2 separate regions of the Homo sapiens genome follow, and region 1 is linked to region 2. The links come from fine-mapping of genetic effects on gene expression. A gene starts in region 2. The other region holds a variant in brackets. All regions are shown on one strand. Distances are between the middles of the regions.

Region 1 (9,866 bases), 36 kb after region 2:
GGATATCATACCTTGGGAAAGGAATATAAGGAGAAAAAATTAGAACGTAGGCCCCAATGGAGGCGCCAATGCAGAAAAATAGAGTCCCGTGAGAATGGAAACTGCTTGGCCAAAGTTCTCCTTGGTGTCTCTAGCTCCCTCACTTTTTCCTCTCCTAGATCCAGTTCCCAGCAGCTGAGATGGGAGAAGGAGAAGGAATACGTCTGTGTTGAGCTTCTCCTTGCTTGGAGCACACTGAATCTCTGGCTTTGGGACTTCAGTGGCCCAGAGGGACAAGCTGTACAGAGCTGGTGTAACTTGCCCCAGCTCATCACTGGGAAATGGTAGCCTCATTCCCCAGCACACAGAAGTGGGGTCTGACTGCTACATACTGGGATTAACTCTGCTACCTCAGTTTCCTCCTGTACAGCTCCCTGTGCTGCCTATGGGTCATGGGAGGTAGGAGATGTGAATGAGATTCTGGAAACCGAAGAGTTAGAAAGAAATGTTCTTCCTCCTCTTCCTTTAGCTTCCTTGCCTGCCAGGTATCAGAAATTCTCAGAAGCAGAAGGAGAACTGAGTGAGGCCTGGTGTCAGAGTTTATGGATTTTTGAGTTTCAAGCCCATCCGATTTTGGCTGTTTTGCTTATATTCTTTATATACTGAAAACAGATTCTCCTAAGGTGTTCCACTCTGTAGCGGCATGGGTTTGGATGCTGTGTTGCTGAGGTTAAGGTGCTGAGGTTGATCCCAAACAGCTTGTTTGATTTTTTCTTTGCTTCAGGGTTTCTCCTCTAGGGAAACCAGTTTACAGATGCCTGACGCAGGTATCTGGGGGCCGGGTGACAGAGCACAGGGTCCCAGAGATAAGCACCCCTCCTGGTTGGTAGCGAAGAAACTCTTTGTATGAGAAGGAGCCTCACATTGCTCGTGTGTTCCAGAAGCACTCTGTGGTGAGGATAAGGAGACATGGCGGATATGCCACATTTGGCAAGACACCTTGGTGCCCAGTGGCACCATACCTGAGGGTAGGTAAAGAACGGCTTCTATATTATGTGCAGAGACTCCTCACTGTGCGAATGCCTATGTGACTACATTCCTTGCAAAGTGACATAGACTAGCTATGCATTAACATGAAAAATTGATCATCCGGGTTCTTCTCAGTTCTTCTGGGGTAAGTTCTCAGCCCCCACCAGGCTAGTGGCTGAGTGGCTCTTCACAGGATGATGCTGAATCACATAAATATGACCATGTGTCTCTATGACCACTGCCTCCCCCCCAGCCCATCTCCACCACCATGACCGTCATCCCACCTCCCACTCCCTCACCTCCTTTATCTCCCTGACCTCTACCACCTCTCTTATTTCCCCCACTTTCTCCACCACCTCCACCACCCTTATTGTCTTCATCACTGTGGTCACTGTCACCGTCACCATCACAGTAGACATGAACTGAGAACTCCCAGTGTGCTGGGCACTGTGCTAAGCCTTCTGCATTCTTTTTTTTTTTTTTTTTTTTTTCTGAGATGGAGCCTTGCTCTGTCACCCAGGCTGGAGTGCAATGGCACGATTTCGGCTCACTGCAACCTCTGCCTCCCAGGTTCAACCAATTCTACTGCCTCAGCCTCCTGAGTAGCTAGGATTACAGGCATGCACCACCATGTCCGGCTAATTTTGGCATTTTTAGTAGAGATGGGGTTTCACCATGTTGGTCAGCCTAGTCTTGAACTCCTGACCTCGTGATCTGCCTGCCTCGGCCTCCCAAAGTGCTGGGATTACAGGCGTGAGCCACCGCGCCTGGCCGCCTTCTGCATTCTTATTGAACCTTTGCAGCCCTGTGTGGAAGGGTTTATTATTATTCTCATTGTACTGATAAGCAAGTGAAAGCTCAAGGATGCTGCTAATTTGCCCAAAGTTACACAGCTAGTTAGTGCCAGAGGGTCTGAACCCACATACCACTGACTGTGGAGCACCAACCCCTGCACCTTAGCCCTGTGCACTTCTGCCTCTCATGACAATGTCATGTGATATCTTGGTACAGTTCAGTCCTTTGGTAACCTCCTCGGTCATTAGAACGTTGCCTGGGTCACTGCTGCTCTAAGAAGCCGAATGCCTGGGTTTACACGTGCCTGGTCCTTCTTTGACAGCACTGGGGACCCAAGTTCAGCATGAGGCTTTGATGGACTCAGAGTGGTCCTAGAACTTCCAGGACTAAAAACTGCTCCCCACATCTAACCTCTTTCATGGCTGCTCCCTGAGTGAAAACCAGACCAGTAGTCAAAGATGAGGCAGGAGAGTGCAGTGGCCCCACTCTCTGTGATTTTCTTAAAATTCTCCCCATCTCTTGTTGGCCTGTGGGGGTGGAAGGTAGTGTTTTTGAAGAGCATCTCAGTCTAGAAATTGAGCAATCTGACTGACAGGCTCAGGAAGCCCCGGAGCTCACAGGCTGCCAGACTGTCTCCAGGAGACCCAAACAAACCGTCAGTTCAATGGGAAAAAAGCCAGCCAAGGCAAACAAAGCACTTGGCGCCGTGGAGTGTCGCGGCCACTCCGTGTCAGACTGTAACCAACAGTTGTAGAGTGAGACGTGGCCTGCTGTTACTGAACCGACTCATTCACTTGTTCATTTGTCTGTTCATTGATCCATGAAATCTTCGTTGAGCCTTGACTTTGTCCCAGGGAAGGGGTTAGGTGCTGGGTGTGAAATAACAGCCAAGAGTCATTGAGTACTCCTCTGAACCTGTGTTAAGCTCTTGGCACAGATGACCTCATTGACGCCTGATGCTATGATGTAGGGAATATCACCATCCCCGTTATTCAGATGGAGAAATTGAGGCTCATAGAGGTTCAGTAGCCTGCTCAGTTCTGGGAGAGGAAGCCACATCTTTCTGATGGTAAAGCCCGATATTCTGCTTCTGTGCAAGGAGGCCCCACCCGTGGTCCCTCTCTCAGCTCAAGGAGCTCAAAATCCAAATTGCTGGAGCACAGGTGAGTGACACTCTCCCAGAGATAAGACCTAATTGCAGAAGGGGCACAGCGAGAGGGTGATTGATTTAGAAAGGCAGGGAGAAATGTCTGATAGATGGTGTTTCAGGGAGATCATCACTGGCAAAGGCCAAGACCCCACGTGGGTGGTGGTAGTTGAGGGCTCTGACCTGAATTCCTACCCAGAGCCCAAAGGACACCTGTGATTCAGCATCCTGTAATGAAGGAAAACGATGTTTCTCACCTGTTTTTTACTCAAATGGAACCAAGTACAGATCTGAGCACGATGCAAACAACAGTGAGTTTTGTAAATGAACAAAGGGAGAAAGTGCTCCCTTAGACAGGCATGTGGAGGCCTTCCCTGCATCTTTGCTGTGCCATCTGTGACTTCCTGCCTCCCAAGGATGTAGTCTGAGGCTGCTTCCTGGCGGTGGGTGTGCTTATCTGCTTATCAAGCTAAATGACCCTTGTTTCAACCACATATGCAGACACTTGCCAGAGATGTCTGCCCTCCATTTCCCATCGAAGTTAGGCTAAATGTCCAACAATGGAAAATGGCAAAATAAATTGAGGTATATTAACATGATGGAACATTGTGAAGCTATTCAAATAATATTTTCAAAGGCCATTCATTGATCTAGGAAAATGATCTGACATACAATGTGTTTTTTGTTTGTTTGTTGTTTTTTGTTTGTTTTTGAGACAGAGTCTCGCTCTGGGGTGCAGTGGCATGGTCTTGGCTCACTGCAACCTCTGCCTCTTGGGTTCAAGCAATTCTCCTGAATCAGCCTCCTGAGTAGCTGGAATTACAGGCGCCTGCCACCACACCTGGCTAATTTTTGTATTTTTAGTAGAGACGGCGGTTTCACCATGTTGGCCAGGCTGGTCTCGAACTCCTGACTCTACCTTGGCCTCCCAAAGTGCTAGGATTCCAGGCATGAGCCACTGTGGCGGCCTGACACATAATGTTATATTATAAAACCAGGGTGGGTGGAATGCTCCATGTGCCATGGTCCAAAAATAAAAAATAAAAAAAATTAACATATATTTTGTGAATATCTGCTCTATGCCGGGTGCTTACTAGGCATTGGGGATATTTGGATTATGAGCCAAGACAGACATTGCCCGTGACCTCAAGGAGTTTCTTGCAGTCTGGTGGAGAGACAAAGACTAAAATGATTAAACCAATGAATGAGTAACAAGCAGAATGCCATGGCAGCTGGTAGGAGGCAGGGGCTCTGCGTCCGGTTGGGGGTCAGGGAACACAGGACACAGGACGTGGAGAGTGACATTCAAGCCAAGATCCTCTAGGAGCTGACTTTCCTAACACAGCAACATAAAATTGTCTCCCTGTTTCACCTCATCTCTATTTCTTTTTTCTTTCTTTCTTTCTTTCTTTTTTTTTTGAGATGGAGTGTTGCCCTATTGCCCAGGCTGGAGTGCAATGGCGTGATCTCAGCTCACTGCAACCTTCGCCTCCTGGGTTCCAGCGATTCTCCTGCCTCAGCCTGCCGAGTAGCTGGAATTACAGGTGTGCGCCACCTCGCCTGGCTAATTTTTTGTATCTTTAGTAGAGATGGGTTTTCACTGTGTTGGCCAGGCTGGTCTCGAACTCCTGACCTCATGATCTGCCGGCCTCAGGCTTTCAAAGTGCTGGGATTACAGGCATGAGCCACCGCGCCTGGCCTCATCTCTATTTCTTTCCCCTGTCTTATTTTGTTTAGAAAACGAGTTAGTGTTTTACTTAGTATTTGTTTTCTGTTCCATGCACCAGAAGAGTCTGATATTTTTGGGAAGAGAGTGAAGCTGAGAGAAGGAGGGGCAGGGGGACACGGTGGAGTACCACCGAGAAGTGTCCGTCAGCTCCACGCTGGCCTTGCTCTGTATGTGGGTTCCTGGGAACATCGCCTCCTCACGAGCAGTTGTCACGAGTACAGGAGCTCCTTTCCTGACCTGAATGATGATGCATTGAGCAAATTGCCTCTTTGGCTTACACC[C/T]AAGGGATGTTGTTTGTGGGGGGCGGGGTCATACCCTGGTGTTCACAGTTCCTCAGGGTGGAGGAGGGGAGCTTGCATGTCTCTGAAGGCTTCCTGCATGAGGCACCAGGGCAGAAAGTGCCTGCTGCCTCCTTATCTGCGGGCCACACACCGCAGGATGCATCGGCTGCCCTTATTTCCTGGGCGCTGACAGTCAGTTCTGGTTAACTTCATCTGAACACCCTGTTATGTGCCAGAAACTGTGTCAGCAGCACTCTGGTGATGATCATAGTGGGTCAAAGACTTTACACTACCTGATGAATGAAGAAATGGATGAATGAAAGGAGCTTGGGAGTCTCTGAAACCAGCAGAGGCAGAAAGGCAGCCCTCTCACCAGTTTCGAGGGCAGGGAACTGGAAAAGGACCACAGCTTGATTGGGAACAACTGAGACTTAAGGGCTGCTGCCCACAGAGGTGCAAGAGCCGAGGCAGCAGTGGCCAGAGGACTGTGCCTGGCTGTTCTGTAGGGAAGGCATGGAGAGCCAGGTTGGGGCTGGAACTGGACAGGCTGGCAGAATCATGAAGCCCAGTGGGTGGCTGCAGGTCTGAGAGTCTAAGGCCGTCTGGTCTGGGCAGCTGAGGGCATAGAGGACTCTATCTCAGTTATGCAGTGCACTGTTGAGCACTGGGGCAACCAAATTTATATCAGAGCCTGGGGCACATTGGAAGGAAAGAACTAGATAACGAATTCAAGACTTGAGCAGATGACCACACCGAAGTCACCGAGGCAGTGAGCGCCTGTGGAATAGCAGCCAGACACTGGTTGTAGGGCATCATGAGCACAGGCTGTGTGTGAGTGTGAGTGCATGTCAGTATGTCTGGGTGTGCATGTATGTGAGTGAGTGTGTGAATGTATGTGTGCGAGTGTGTGTACATGTGTGCATGTGTGTGAGCATGTATGTCAGTGTGTTGGCGTGTCAAGGTGTGCATGTATGTGAGAATATGTATGTATGTGTGAGAGTGTGTAGATGTGTACATGTAAGTGAGCATGTATGTGAGTGTGAGTGTGCATATGTATATGTGAGTGTGCCTAGGTTTGTGCATGCATGTAAACATATATGTGTCAGTATGCACGTGTGTGAGTGTGTGAATGTGTTATGTGTGAGCATGCATATGTGTGTGCATGTATGTGAGCATGTTTTTGTGTATTCATTCTCATAGTGTTATAAAGAAATACGCAAGACTGGGTAATTTATAAAGGAAAGAGGTTTAATTGACTCACAGTTCTGCATGGCTGGGGAAGTCTCAGGAAACTTACAATCATGGCGGAACGGGAAAAGGCACATCTGACATGGTGGCAGGCGAGAGAGAGCGAGTATGTGAAAGAGGAACTGTCAGACACTTATAAAACCATCAGATCTCATGAGAACTCACTATCATGAGAACAGCATGGGGGACACCACCCCCATAATCCAGTCACCTCCCACCAGGTCTCTCCCTCAATCCCTGGGGATTATGGAGATTACAGTTCAAGATGATATTTGGGTGGGAACACAGAACCAAACCATATTAATGTGTGTGTGTGTGTGTGTGTCAGGACATGTGTGTATGTGAGTGTGTGTGAGTGTGCATATGTACATGTGGGAGTATGTGTAGGTGTGTGCATGTATGTGAGCATGCGTGTGTGAGTGTGCCAGTGTGTCAGGGCATGTATGTATGTGAGCATGTGTGAGTGTGCATATGTATGTATGAGAGTGTGTGGGTGTGTGAGTGTGAGTGTGAGAGTGTGTGAACGTGCCAAAGTGTGTGTATGAAGTCTGCCTTCAGTTATGCAGGGGGATTTCTCCATACCAGATTCAGGGGGCAACTCCTAGAACCCTTTTTGGCAAAGGCACTGACTCTGCTGAGCCCCTGCCATGTGAGGTTAGATCCCATGGTGTTATCCCTTCAAGACACCTGTCTCAACTCTAATTTATCCTTTGTGTGATTAATTGCTGAGTGGCTACCTCCCCCTTGAGACTGGGAGTGCCTCAGTAATGCCTGCTGGGGAGCAGTGGTCTCGGGGCACACTCACCATGGGCTCCCCAGGGCTCAGCACAATGTCCGGCACATAAGAAGTGCCCCATAGATATTTGCTGATCAAGATCCACTTGTAACAACTAGGGTAAGGATGGCCATTCCCTTTCCCTGTCCTCCTCCCCACCCACTTTCTATTGCCTTTTCCTTTCTCTTCCCTGTGTCGTCTTGTCTGCACATATTTGCCTCCATGGTAGCCCGGTGAGCTAGGTTGCTAGATTTAGCAAATAAAATACAGGAAATTTGGTTGAATTTGAATTTCAGATAAACAACAAATAATTTTTATGTAAAATGTATTTTGTATATTTAGTATAAATATATAATAAGCATCAAAATATTGGGACAGAAATTATTTGCCATTTATCTTAAATTAACTGGGCTTCCTACATTTTATCTGGCAGTCTTACATCTGAGCTAAAACCCAGTCTGATCCCATGGATGAGGCTGAATTTGATGGCAAGAAAGCCCAGTTGCTTCCCAACTCTCTGCTTCAGTGTAGCCAACCTGGTTGGTCACATGTGCTGAGCAATGGGTGGATGCCTGGCATCACACCTGCATCAGGGGAAGTGAAAGACCCAAATTATTGGTCTCAAAGAGTCAAGGAGTTGAGAGAGACCAAGTAAGATTTTCTGGAGAGCTGGGTTACCTGCTGGCAAAGGGAACTAACAGAGATTACAGTCCCAGTTTTGGGCCATTCTTTTACATATGTAATCTTAAAATGAATACAACCCCTTGCTCAGCAATAGCTACCTTCTGTGGAGAGCTTCACACCCTATCTTGTTAAATCTTCACAAGAACCTGCCACGTAGGAGGATTCTTCTCTGTTTCTTAGAGAGGTTAGTGAGTGCCAAGACAAGGAGTGTTTTCCAAGATCTTCTGCACAGCTGGGAAGTGGCAGAACCAGGAGTGGCACCCAGACGTGCCTGACAAGCCTGGACTTTCCCAAAGCACTGCTCTGTCACTTCACTTTTCCCGCCAAGCCCAAGATGAAACCACAGAGTGTGGGGAAGGAGCACTGTGGGAAGAGTCAGGAAGCCCATGTATTAGTCTCAGTGAACTCTTTTGGAGCCTGAATGTTACCCATCCATATGCCCACTCACTCATCCATCCATCTACTCACTCAACCATCCATCCATCCATCCATCCATCCATCCATCCATCCATCCACCCATCCACCCATCCGTCTATCTCTTCACCTATCCATTCACCATCCATCTACCACAAATTTACCCATTCATCCATGCATCCATCCCTCCATCTATACATCCCACTATGGTGCTGAGTTTGCCATTCATCTGTCCATCCATCCATCCATCCATCCATCCATCTCTTCACCCATCCACTCACCATCCACCTACCACCCATTCATCCATCCATCCCTCCTTCCCTTCCTCCATCCATTCGTACACCATTCCATTCCTTCATCCATCCATCTCACTATGGTGCTGGGGATGCCATTCATTTGTTTGTCCATCCATCCATCCATCCATCCATCCATCCATCCATCCTTCCATCCCTCCATTCATCCATCTCACTATGGTGCTGGGGATGCCATTTATCTGTCCGTCCATCCATCCATCCATCCATCCACCCATCCATCCATCCGTTTATTCACCCACCCACCATCCACCTACCACCCATTTACCTATTCATTCATCCATCCACCCATCCCCCTCTCCTTCCCTCTTTCCTGCCACCCATCCAACTCTGGTGCTGGGAATGCCATTCATCTGTCTGGCCATCCATCCATCCATCCATCCACTCACCCACCCATCAACCATCTACCCGCCACCCATTTACCTATTCATCCATCCACTTATCCATGCATCCCACTATGGTGCTGGGGATGCCAACCACCTGTCCATTTTTCCATCCATCCACCCACCCACGCATCTACCCATCCTTCTCTCCCTCCATCCTTCCATCTCACTATGTTAGGTGCTGGGGATACTGGGAGGCATAACAGCCCTCATGAAGCTCAACAGCTCACCTGGAGGGTTTACACCCACTCAAAGCTTCCCATGGGCTAGGCCACAAGCTCTTCTCAGCTCAATCTCACAATTGGCAGATTAACCAAGACCCACAGTTAACCAGAAACTGGAGACTCTCCCTGTAATGACCTTATGTTGTTTTTATTCCATTTAGCCTGGAATGGACAATGTGCTGGACTACGGCCTGGACCGAGTGACCAATCCGAATGAAGTCAAGGTAAACCAGGTATGTCTCTGCTGCATAGTTTGGGTAGGGCCTAGGTCGGATTCTGGGGCTGGGAAGGTGTCCACATGTCTATTCGTGTCTGTTAGGGCAACGATATCTCCTCTTTGAGACTATCAAAGAGAGGAGGACCGTGGGCTCTGTGGACTCAGGGTTAGGGGAGAAGTGGGACCATGGCAGGATGCTAGGTGAGAAGAAATTACGACTGAAGACAGACAGAGGCTGTAGAGTGCAGGGAAGAGCTAATGGGATCTAGATGGCTGGTTTTCAAACTTTTCTGAGTCACTTCCCCCTTCGAAAATCTGATGAAAGTTATGAGCTCATTCCACTCAAAGATGCACAGACAGACATTCTGTACACAGTTTCAGCCAGTTCCTTGATCCTGAGGAGACTGTAGACCCCAGCCTCGAAACTCTTGAATCAGTTTTAGATTTAACCTTAATCCACATGACAGGACCTGGAATCTAACACTTTCTTTCACATCCCAGTGGAGTGGGATCTTTGTAAAGATTCTCCAAGCAGGTTTCATTAAAAAAAAATACCTTTCCTCAAATAGGCCATCTTTCATGATGGATAGCCAATGTCCTATGAGTATTTATTTATTTATAGAAATACAGTTCATAAGCTGTTGAGCCCA
Region 2 (9,866 bases):
ATAAATACATAAGCAAACAAACAAACAAACAAATAAATAAATAAATAAATAAATAAATAAATTCTGGCTGTGTCTACCTGGGTATGGGATTGATTGATCCATGACTGGGAAATTTTGGACAAGTCTGTTAGAAAGAAGGTGAGGGGCTCTTCTTGAAAGGCTCTTAAGAAGGTAGTAGGCCAGGTGCAGTGGCTCGCGCCTGTAATCTCGGCACTTTGGGAAGCCGAGGTGAGTGGATCGCTTGAGCTCAGGAGTTCAAACCTGGGTTTCTATCTTGATGGGAGTGCTGGTAAACAGGGAAATAAGTTTGCCAAAACTCATCCAACTATTCTTAAAATTAGAGCATGTAATTGTATGTAAACTGTACCTTGAATATAAACTTTACCTCAATTAAAAGGTTTATGTCCCTTTCCATTTAATCCCTGACCCAAACCCTCCAAATTTCTTTTCTTTTCTTTTCTTTTTGAGATAGATTCTCGCTCTGTCGCCCAGGCTGGAGTGCAGTGGTGTGATCTCGGCTTACCTTGGCCTCCCGGGTTCAAGTGATTCTCCTGCCTCATTCAGCCTCCCAAGTAGCTGGGATTACAGGTGCCTGCCACCACATCCAGCTATTTTTTGTATTTTTGGTAGAGACAGGGGTTTCACCATGTTGGCCAGGCTGGTCTCAAACTCCTGATCTCAGGTGATTCTCCCGCCTCGGCCCCCCAAAGTGCTGGGATTACAAGCATGAGTCACCATGCCCGACCCCTCTAAACTTCTTGACCTTGTGTCCAACAAACTCCTAGTCACCACCCTCAAATTATGCTAATCCTTGCCTCTGCACCTTTTCTTGTGCTGTTCCCTGTGAGGAAACTTAGCTTGCCCCTACACCTGGTTAACTTCCTATCTTCTTTTAAGACTCCTCTTCCAGGAAGCCTTCCTGATCTTCTCTTCCATTCAGGATGGGTGAGGTGCCTTTCCACAAAATCCTGTATTGCATTGACTACATCTTCATCACACATAGATTTTATTTTATAACATTTTTGTCTAAATATTCTTTTTCCACTTTAAACTCTGAGCTCTTTGAGACAGGAACTGGGTCATATTCTTTTTTTCTTTTTTATATTTGTATTTTTCTGGTCTTATTCTCATAGAAAGGACTGAGTCATATTCTGCTTTGAATTCCAGACTCTAGCAAAATGGCTGGCAAACAATATGTTTGTTGATTAAATAAATCGATGAATTAAATCAATTTTTTCCCCTAGGACACTGGCATGAAACTTTGAATACCATATTATATGACAGGCTCTTTCAGTTGCAAGAAACAAAGACTCAGATATGTGGGAGGATTCCAGAAGATACCCTTGCCCTTGGTAAGGCACTGACCCAACTTAGTCCGAGGGGCTTGTCTGTGTCATGGCCCCTCTGCTGCTCTCTGTTCAGCTTGTTGCTTCCCTTTTTTTCTTTTCTTTTATATGTATATTTTTTGAGACAGAGTCTCGCTCTATTGCCCAGGCTGGAGTGCAAATCTCAGCTCAATGCAACCTCTGCCTCCCAGGTTCAAGCGATTCTCCTGCCTCAGCTTCTCGAGTAGCTGGGATTACAGGCATGCGCCAGCATGCCCGGCTAATTTTTTTGTATTTTTAGTAGAGATGGGGTTTCGCCATGTTGACCATGCTGGTCTCGAACTCCTGACCTCAGGTGATCCGCCCGCTTCGGCCCCCCAAAGTGCTGGGATTACAGGCGTGAGCCTCCGCGCCCAGCCTGTTTGCCTCCCTTTTCTGATCAGCTTCCTCTGCTCACCTTTCATTTCTCCTTCCTCATAACTTCAGCTTGCATTTGGTCTCAGCTTCCTGTGGCCCTGACTTTATCTGACTCAAGTTGGCATTTGTGAAGGTAATAATCTAACAAGCTCCTCTCCGTTTTTCAGATCCACATCATGGTCCTATCATGTGGGGAACTGGCCTCTGGTCCAATGAGCAAAGATGGGTCCCACAAAATGTAGTTGCTTGGAGAGCAGGGCCTGACAGAAGGGGTGGGGAGGAGAGTGGCAGGCACTGAGGCCTCTCCTATTCTATTAATGAGCAAAGTGCCTTTTATTTTTGCCTCTCTTTGCTCCTGAATAATTTTTCTCATCCTTCATTTTAGGAAAGCCACTTATCTTCTTGATGCTTAGGGTTTCTAGAGACAAGGGATGTTGAAGCTGGAAGGAACTTCATAGCTCATCTTGGTCAGATCCCAGCATGTGCTCTGTATAACACTAGGCTCAAAAGATGCTTCATGAGAAAAAAAATCAAGATATTCCAGCATTTTCTTTGGATTTAAACTCACACCAGGCTCAAAAGATGCTTCATGAGAAAAAAAATCAAGATATTCCAGCATTTTCTTTGGATCTCAGCTCACACCAGGAGCATACTTCTCAGTGGTTCAATTTGCTTGGCAGGATCTCTGGTCTTCTGCTTGGATGGATCTCTGCAGGGTCCAGCGTCCTCTAAATTGGAGGCTCTGAATCAGGGATTCCTGAAAAGGCACAAGAGAGGCCCAAGCATGAACCTCTTGAAATTGTTTGCAAACTTCAGTCAGTGTTGTGTACATGTGCATGTGTGTGTGTTCCTGAGTGTCCATAGCTTTCATCAGATTCTTACAGGTAAATATCACCCGAGAGAATGGATAAGAACCACTGCTTTTTTTTTTTTTTGAGACAGAGTCTCACTCTGTCACCCAGGCTGGAATGCAGTGGCTCAGTCTTGGCTCACTGCAGCCTCTGGGTTCAAGTGATTCTTGTGCCTCAGCCTCCTGAGTAGCTGGGATTACAGGTTGCTCCACCATGCTGATTGATTTCTGTATTTTTAATAGAGATAGGGTTTTGCCATGTTGGCCAGGCTGGTCTTGAACTCCTGACTTCAAGTGATTCACCCGCTTGGGCCTCCCAAAGTGCTGGAATTATAGGCGTGAGCCATCACACCCAGCCAAGAACCACTGCTTTAAAGGGACATTGGTTGACTGTGCCTTCCTAAGGTAAAGGCCTTCTTGTTTTCTTCCAACTTAAACATTTTATCTGCTACACTCAATAACCATCGAGTATGTTTAAGAGAAAGTGCTTTATATAACAAAGCAGAAAGGCTCTTGATAATAACTTAGAGGCTTCATCCTTGCATTTTTCTCAAGATGAAAACGCTAACATAATGAGCTGTCAAGGTAGGTTCATCAATTGTAACAAATGGGCCACTCCAGTGGAGGATGTTGATCATGGGGGACGCTGTGCGTGCGTGGGGAGAGGGGATATATGACGTGTCCCTATACCTTCCGCTCAATTGTGCTGTGAACCTAAAACTGCTCTAAGAAATAAAGTCTATTAAAACAAGCAAACCAGCCAGCTGCAGTGGCTCACTCCTGTAATTCCAGCACTTTGGGAGGCCGAGGTGGGTAGATCGATTGAGCCCAGGAGTTTGTGAAACTCCCTCTCCACAAACAATTTTTGTAAAAATTAGCGGGGTGTGGTGGCACGTGCCTGTAGCCCCAGCTACTGGGGAGGCTGAGGTGGGAGGATTGTTTGAGCCTGGGAGGTTGTAGCTGCAATGAGCCATGATTACGCCACTGCACTCCAGCCTGGGTGACAGAGCAAGACCCTGTCTCAAAAAAAAAGTTAAACAACAACAAACCCAACAACCAACTAACCGAAACACTAAGAATCAGAGAAGTAAAATATAATTCGCTTCATCCAGACAGCTAGCCCGGTGAGGACTACAACCTTCCTCTCTTCCTTCTTCACTTCTTTGCTCTCTCTTTTTAAACCCACATCTTAGCAATTCCTCTGCTATTGGGTCATTAAATCGCCACCTCTAATTTTTTTTTCTAAGCATTTATTGAGGGCCAAGCACTGTGTTACACATCTCCTCATTAAAATGGTATAGCAACCTTTTCTGGTCGATATTATGATCCCATTTTTCAATTTTTACTTTTGAGTGAAGGACATTGATTCTTAGAGATTGTAAGGAACTTGCCCAAGGCTGCCGGCTGGTTAGTGGCAGAGCTGGGATGGGAAAGTCCGTATTTTCCACCGCGCTGTATTAGTGAGGGCTCTTTGTGTCACTTCTGTGCATAACTCCGCCCCAAGTTAAAAGGCTCGCTGCTCTCGACAGGTCCTCCTCCTCCTCCCGCTAGGTCCTCCTCCTCCTCCCGCCAGGTCCTCCTCCTCCTTCTCCTCCCGGGGCCCTGCCCTGCGGGTCTCACCTGCTGCTCCGCGGGGTCCCGGCGGGGGCCGGATAGCGCCCCCTGGCGGCAGGTGGGCGCCCGCGCAGCGCATGCTAATGAGCCCGCGGCGCCGCTCGCGGATTGGCTGGCGCGGATTCCAGCTGCTTTCCAAGTCAGCGGCGCCTAGTGAGAGTCAGGGGGGCCCGGCCCGCGCCCTCCCCGCCCAGCCGCCTCCCCGTCGACGCCCAGGGCTGGGGCGAGCCAGGCTGCCTTTCGAACTTGGGGGGCTTCTCCTCTTGTCTCCCACTGGTGCTCTGGCTGTGAATCCATCCAGGGGCCAGGATGACAATCCGACACCAAGGCCAGCAGTACAGGCCGAGGATGGCATTTCTCCAAAAGGTAACCCTGGCCCCTCACCTGGACCCTGGGAGGAGGGCGGGGGACCGCATCTGCGAAGCGTCCGAGGACAAGAGGGGCAGGAGTGGAGAGCACCCCTTTGGGTCGATTTGTGCTGCTCGATTTTATTAAGTGACTTCTTTGCTGTGTGTGTCGATATTGATGGCTATAATAATTAGGTTTTCGTGTGCCCTGCCTGTAGTGGAGAATCTGAAGCCAGCGCTGATGGTCTGCGGGAGGTGAAAACAACCTGTTACTCGGGAGAGGCAGGTTCAGTTCAGGCTGTGGCAGATTTGAGACAGCCTGCTGATATTGTTGTAAGACGACCAGATGTGACATTGCCATTTTTGCCTTTTTTTTCTGATCCCAAACTGCACTATTTTAAAGTGTGTGTGTGTGTACACATAGACCATGAAAACGGGGTGATTTGTAGGATAAAGGGCCACCCCATTTACAATGCCCTGAGAGCCCTCATTTGAGTGTGTCTATCTGTGCATCTCCTGCTGTCTGCGCTGGCGGCAGAAGTCCCAACCTTTTCGCTTCCCTTGCGAATGCTTTCCCAGACAAAGTGACCGGGCACAGGGTGTGCACACAGGATGGACATGTGGGAGGTGGAATGCACCTGTGGGGTGATGTGTTTGGGGACAAAGTGGTTCATTTAGTTCTGAGCTTCTGGTATAATCACTGTCCGATGAGATCTACAGAGGATTAGGTCCCGGGTCACATCTTTGTCCTTCCTCCCACCCGTAGCCACTTTTCACAGCGTAGTGTCCATCTTCTTAGGCTTATCTTGTTGAGTAGAATTAGTTGAATGTTTTGTGACAAGCTGAGCTCTCCCTGAGCCCCTGGAGCTCAGCAAATTTGTATAGTCAGTGACCGCTGTCCTGATTTGCCCAGGACTTTCAATGCTAAAACCTGGACAGTCCTGGGGACCCCGAGACGGTCGCATTTGGTCCACCTGTTTCAAGATGCTCGTGCTCATCTTCCGGGTAGCAGAGGTGTGGGTATCATCTGTAAAGCAGACAGGCTGAATGTTGTCTCACTCAGAAAGAACCCTGAGAGCCTGTATTGCAGATACCAGTTACTAAAAGCAGAAGAAACTGCCTAAGTCGGCTATCTCAAAGCCACACATCATCTTCCAGGATTTATCCTAGGACTGTCTCCTCCCAGGCAGGACAGCTCTGGCTTGGGGGCTCAGAGGGTAATTGTCAAGAGATAAATTCAGTTTGTTTATTGAATCTCTGGCATTCTTTTCCATCATGACTCTTCTCTGGTAGATTCTCCTCTCCTTACCTTGGTCTTCTGACTAGTGTCTTGGTCTCTAGTTTCTCTCCTCCACCCCAGGCTTCCCTCCTCCTCCCCAGCCACCCCTCCTCCACCCCAGCATCCCCTCCTCCACCCCAGCATCCCCTCCTCCACCCAAACTCTCCCTCCTCCACCTTAGTCTCCCTTCCTCCACCCTAACCTCTCCCTCCTCCATTCCAGCTCCCCTCCTCCACCCCAGCTCTCCCCCCTCCACCCCACCTTTCCCTCCTCCACCCCAGGTCCTCTTCCTCCACCCTGTCTTCCCCTTCCTCTACCCCATCCTCCTCCTCCTCCCCAGCCTTCTCCTCCTCCATCCTAACTTACCTCTCCTCTACCCTAACCTCCCCCTCCTGCATCCCAGCTCCCCATCTTCCACCCCGGTCTCCCCTCCTCCATGACAGCTTTCCTACACACACTGTTTTTTTCCCCCAAATCAATGGTGACCTCCTTGACCTGAAACGCTCCACTGGCTTCCCACATTCCCAGCATAAAGTCCAACCTTCCCCTGAGCAGCCTGGTTACCCAGGATTCCGCTCCCACCATCTTCCTGGCTTTGCCTCCTGCCTGCCTTCCACACCTGCCCTCTGGGAAACAACAAAGCAGCCACAGGCACCCCTGGGCTCCTGCCTCAAACACTTCCTTCCTTTTTAGGAACCCGGTGCCCTTTCATGCCTCAGGGTCCGTCTGCTGGGAAAGTCCTTTCTCCCCCTCTCGCTTGCCAAGCTCCACTTCTCTTCCCATGCCCAGCTCAGTCACCCCTCGGCTGTGAAGGCTGGTTCTCCTAATGCCCCTGGGCAGGACAGCTCCCTTCTCTGTGCACTACAGACCTTGCCACACCTCCAGCATTGCTCTTTCCCTAGACCTTGTGCTGGCAAGGGCCCTGTCTATGTATCCTCTATATCTATGTATGTATTGGTCATGTCACAGAGCTCCTTGGAGCAGCAGACAGAATAAAGGTCTGCAGAACAGGTCTCAAGAGCCCATGCCAGGCGATCCTTAATGAAGAACCAGCTACATTCGATGTTCAGCTTTCTGGAGAAGGGCCTGGAACAAAAAAATGTGGACCTGGGTGCAACTGTCACTCATCACTCGTTCCATGCATGTGATGAAGTACACGGTGTCCATGATGGTGTGGAGGGGTGGGCATTATGTGCATTATCTCATCTATTTCATTAGCTGGAGGTTATGGCCACCATTTTACAGAGAAGAAAGCTGAGGCTCAGAGAGGCTAAGCGGCTTGCCAGTCACGCAGCACTAGGTGGTGAAACCAAGAAGAAATACAGGAGTGGTCGTTGTCTGTCACAAGTTGTGGTGCAATGCCCTGAGCTTTCCCATGACGTAGGGCAGAGTGTGGAGGCTGTGGGAAAGCCTGGCTCAGTGTGCTTAGGGACACAGAGCTGAGACCTGAAGGATACATAGGGTTTCCAGGCAGAAAGGGAAAGATGTTTCAGGCAGAGGGAACAGTTTACGCACAGAGGCATGGGAAAGCTAGTGGGTTTGGGGCCATGTTCTGTAATGGATGGATTTTGAAGTGCAAGGGGAGTGGGAAGCTGGAAAGGAAAGGCAGAGGTAGTGGGTGCCTATGGGCCTTCAAGACCTTTTAAAGGTTTGGTTTTATCTCATACGGAGCCACTATAGAAATTGGAATGGGCAAGTGATATGGCAGATTTGCAAATTAAGAAGATCACTGGTGGGCCAGTTGCAGTGGCTCATGCCTGTAATCCCAGCAGTTTGGGAGGCCAAGGTAGGTGGATCATCTGAGATCAGGAGTTTGAGACCAGCCTGGCCAACATGGCAAAACCCTCTGACTATTAAAAATATAAAAATTAGCAGGGCGTGGTGGTGAGCACCTGTAATCCCAGCTACTTGGGAGGCTGAGGCAGGAGAATTGCTTGAACCCGGGAGGTGGAGGTTGCAGTAACTGAGTTCACAAGTTCTTGCCACTACACTACACTCTAGCCTGTGTGACAGAGAGAGACTCTGTCTAAAAAAAAAAAAAGGACCACTGGTGTGAGCCAGAGGAATGGGTGGAATGCCTTCTCCCTGAACTAAGAGAGTTCACTCAGGATCCTCCTGTGCCCCTGCAGCTCCAACCTCTTGAGAAATGACAACTGTCATGGGGCCATGGAGAGCCATACTGGTCAGAAAGGACCGTGTGCGATTCCCGAGGTTCTCACACCCATGCCTCCATCTCAGTCTCAATGCAGCTGTGGGTCGGGATGCCCGCCGGCCATGCTGCTTCCCACCTCTGATGCCTGGGCTCGTTTCAGATGTGGTAGAAAGAGGCAGAAGGCCCATCTGTTCATGGCTTTGCTGGGGAATTAGCTGATGGCACACAGTGGACAGATGAACACAGGTGGGTGGCCTCCTGTGGTTCCAGCACCCATGGACTCTTGTTCTGGGGATGGCCCATTCCCCTCTGCAATTACCAGATCACCATCCCAGCCAGTACCACCACCGCCCTTGGGATTCACCATGGGCGAATTTCTTGGACTTTCTTGGAGAAGCCTTCTGGTGACAGCTTTGTTTTCCTGTGCGGCTTCTGGCATCTCTTTTTGCCTGAGAAAGGAATGCAGAAGCAGAAATATTGAGGATATCCAGGCCGAGTTTGGTATCTCTTGCTTGTAACATTCTTTCATTCAATACAGACATATAATTGGGTACTTATGGGCTAGATGCTGTGCCAGGTGCTGGGAGCACCAAGGAGCTTAGAGTCTAGTGGAGAAAGACAGATGTATAAACAAGGAGACAAGAAGTGTTCCATAGGCTGTGGCAGACATTGTTGGAGGATACATGTGACACCAAGCAGGGAGTGGTCAGTTCTACCTGGGGTCAGGGGGGATCAGGACAGATTTTACAAGGGGGCTTGCAATGGAGTCGAATTATAAAAAGTCAGTAGTTTTTGGCCAGGAGGTTGAGGAAATGAGTGACATTTTAGGCAATACAAAACAGGGACATGTGAAGTAGCATGGTGGTTTGGGAGATTGCCTGCGGGTTGGGAGAGCTGGCCCCAAGTGTACAGGAAGTGAGTTTGGCGTTGATGGAGAAGACTGGTAGGTAAGAAAGGCCCAGATCTGCTGGGTGCAGTGGCACATGCCTGTAATCCCAGTACTTTGGGAGGCTGAGGTGGACGGATCACTAGGTCAGGAGTTCAAGACCAGCCTGGCTAACATGGTGAAACCAAAAATACACAAATTAGCCAGGCATGCTGGCATGCGCCTGTAATCCTAGCTACTTGGGAGGCTGAGGCAGGAGAATTGCTTGAACCCAGGAGGCGGAGGCTGCAGTGAGCTGAGATCATGCCACCGCACTCCAGCCTGGGTGACAGAGCAAGACTCAGTCTCAAAAAAAACCCAAAAACCAAAAACCAAAAACAAACAAACAAAAAGAAAAGCCCAGAACTGGAGGGCTTCCTAGGTCATGCTACAGAGTTTGATGGCTTCTGTGTTTAATGAGAAGCTGTTTGACGTTTTAAAATCAGGGATGAATAAGATGAGTTGGTTTATATGCTAGAAAGATGATTCTGGTGAGAGGGAATGAGTAATTCTCAACCTGGGCTGCACTTTAAAAAACATTAATATCAACTCACTCTACTTTGAGTTTCTGATTTACTTGGCCTGGAAGTGAGGCTTAAGCATTGGTCTTTTTATGCCACTGTTTTTCTCCCTTCCTTTCTTTTTTTTTTTTTTTTGTTTGTTTTTGAGACAGAGCCTGTCTCTGTTGCTCAGGCTGGAGTACAGTGGCGAGATCTCGGCTAACGGTAACCTCTGCCTCCCGGGTTCAAGTGATTCTCCTGCCTCAGCCTCCCAAGTAGCTGGGGATACTGGGACCTGCTACCATGCCTGGCTAATTTTTGTGTTTTTAGTAGAGACGGGGTTTCACCATGTTGGTCAGGCTGGTCTCAAACTCCTGACCTCAGGTGCCCCACCTGCCCTGCCTCCTAAAGTGCTGGGATTGCAGGTGTAAACCACAAAGCCTGGCCTGGTTTTCTT

The links. PIP is the estimated chance that this variant, and not a neighbour inherited with it, causes the effect.
Region 1: its variant is fine-mapped to the expression of RGS9 in whole blood (TOPMed, PIP 0.99).

Annotation. Positions count from the first base shown.
Region 1 is chr17:65,168,572-65,178,437 of GRCh38, forward strand. RGS9 (regulator of G protein signaling 9) reads left to right here. Exons shown (of 19, transcript NM_003835.4): 9 at 9,161-9,232. It also overlaps the pseudogene ZNF848P. Among named protein-coding and RNA genes, the nearest start is that of RGS9, 36 kb to the left of the region's middle. RefSeq lists an enhancer at 4,379-5,172. The variant C/T (reference allele first, on the strand shown) is at 4,961.
Region 2 is chr17:65,133,026-65,142,891 of GRCh38, forward strand. RGS9 (regulator of G protein signaling 9) reads left to right here and starts at 4,345. Exons shown (of 19, transcript NM_003835.4): 1 at 4,345-4,572. The coding sequence starts at 4,516. RefSeq lists a silencer at 4,035-4,534.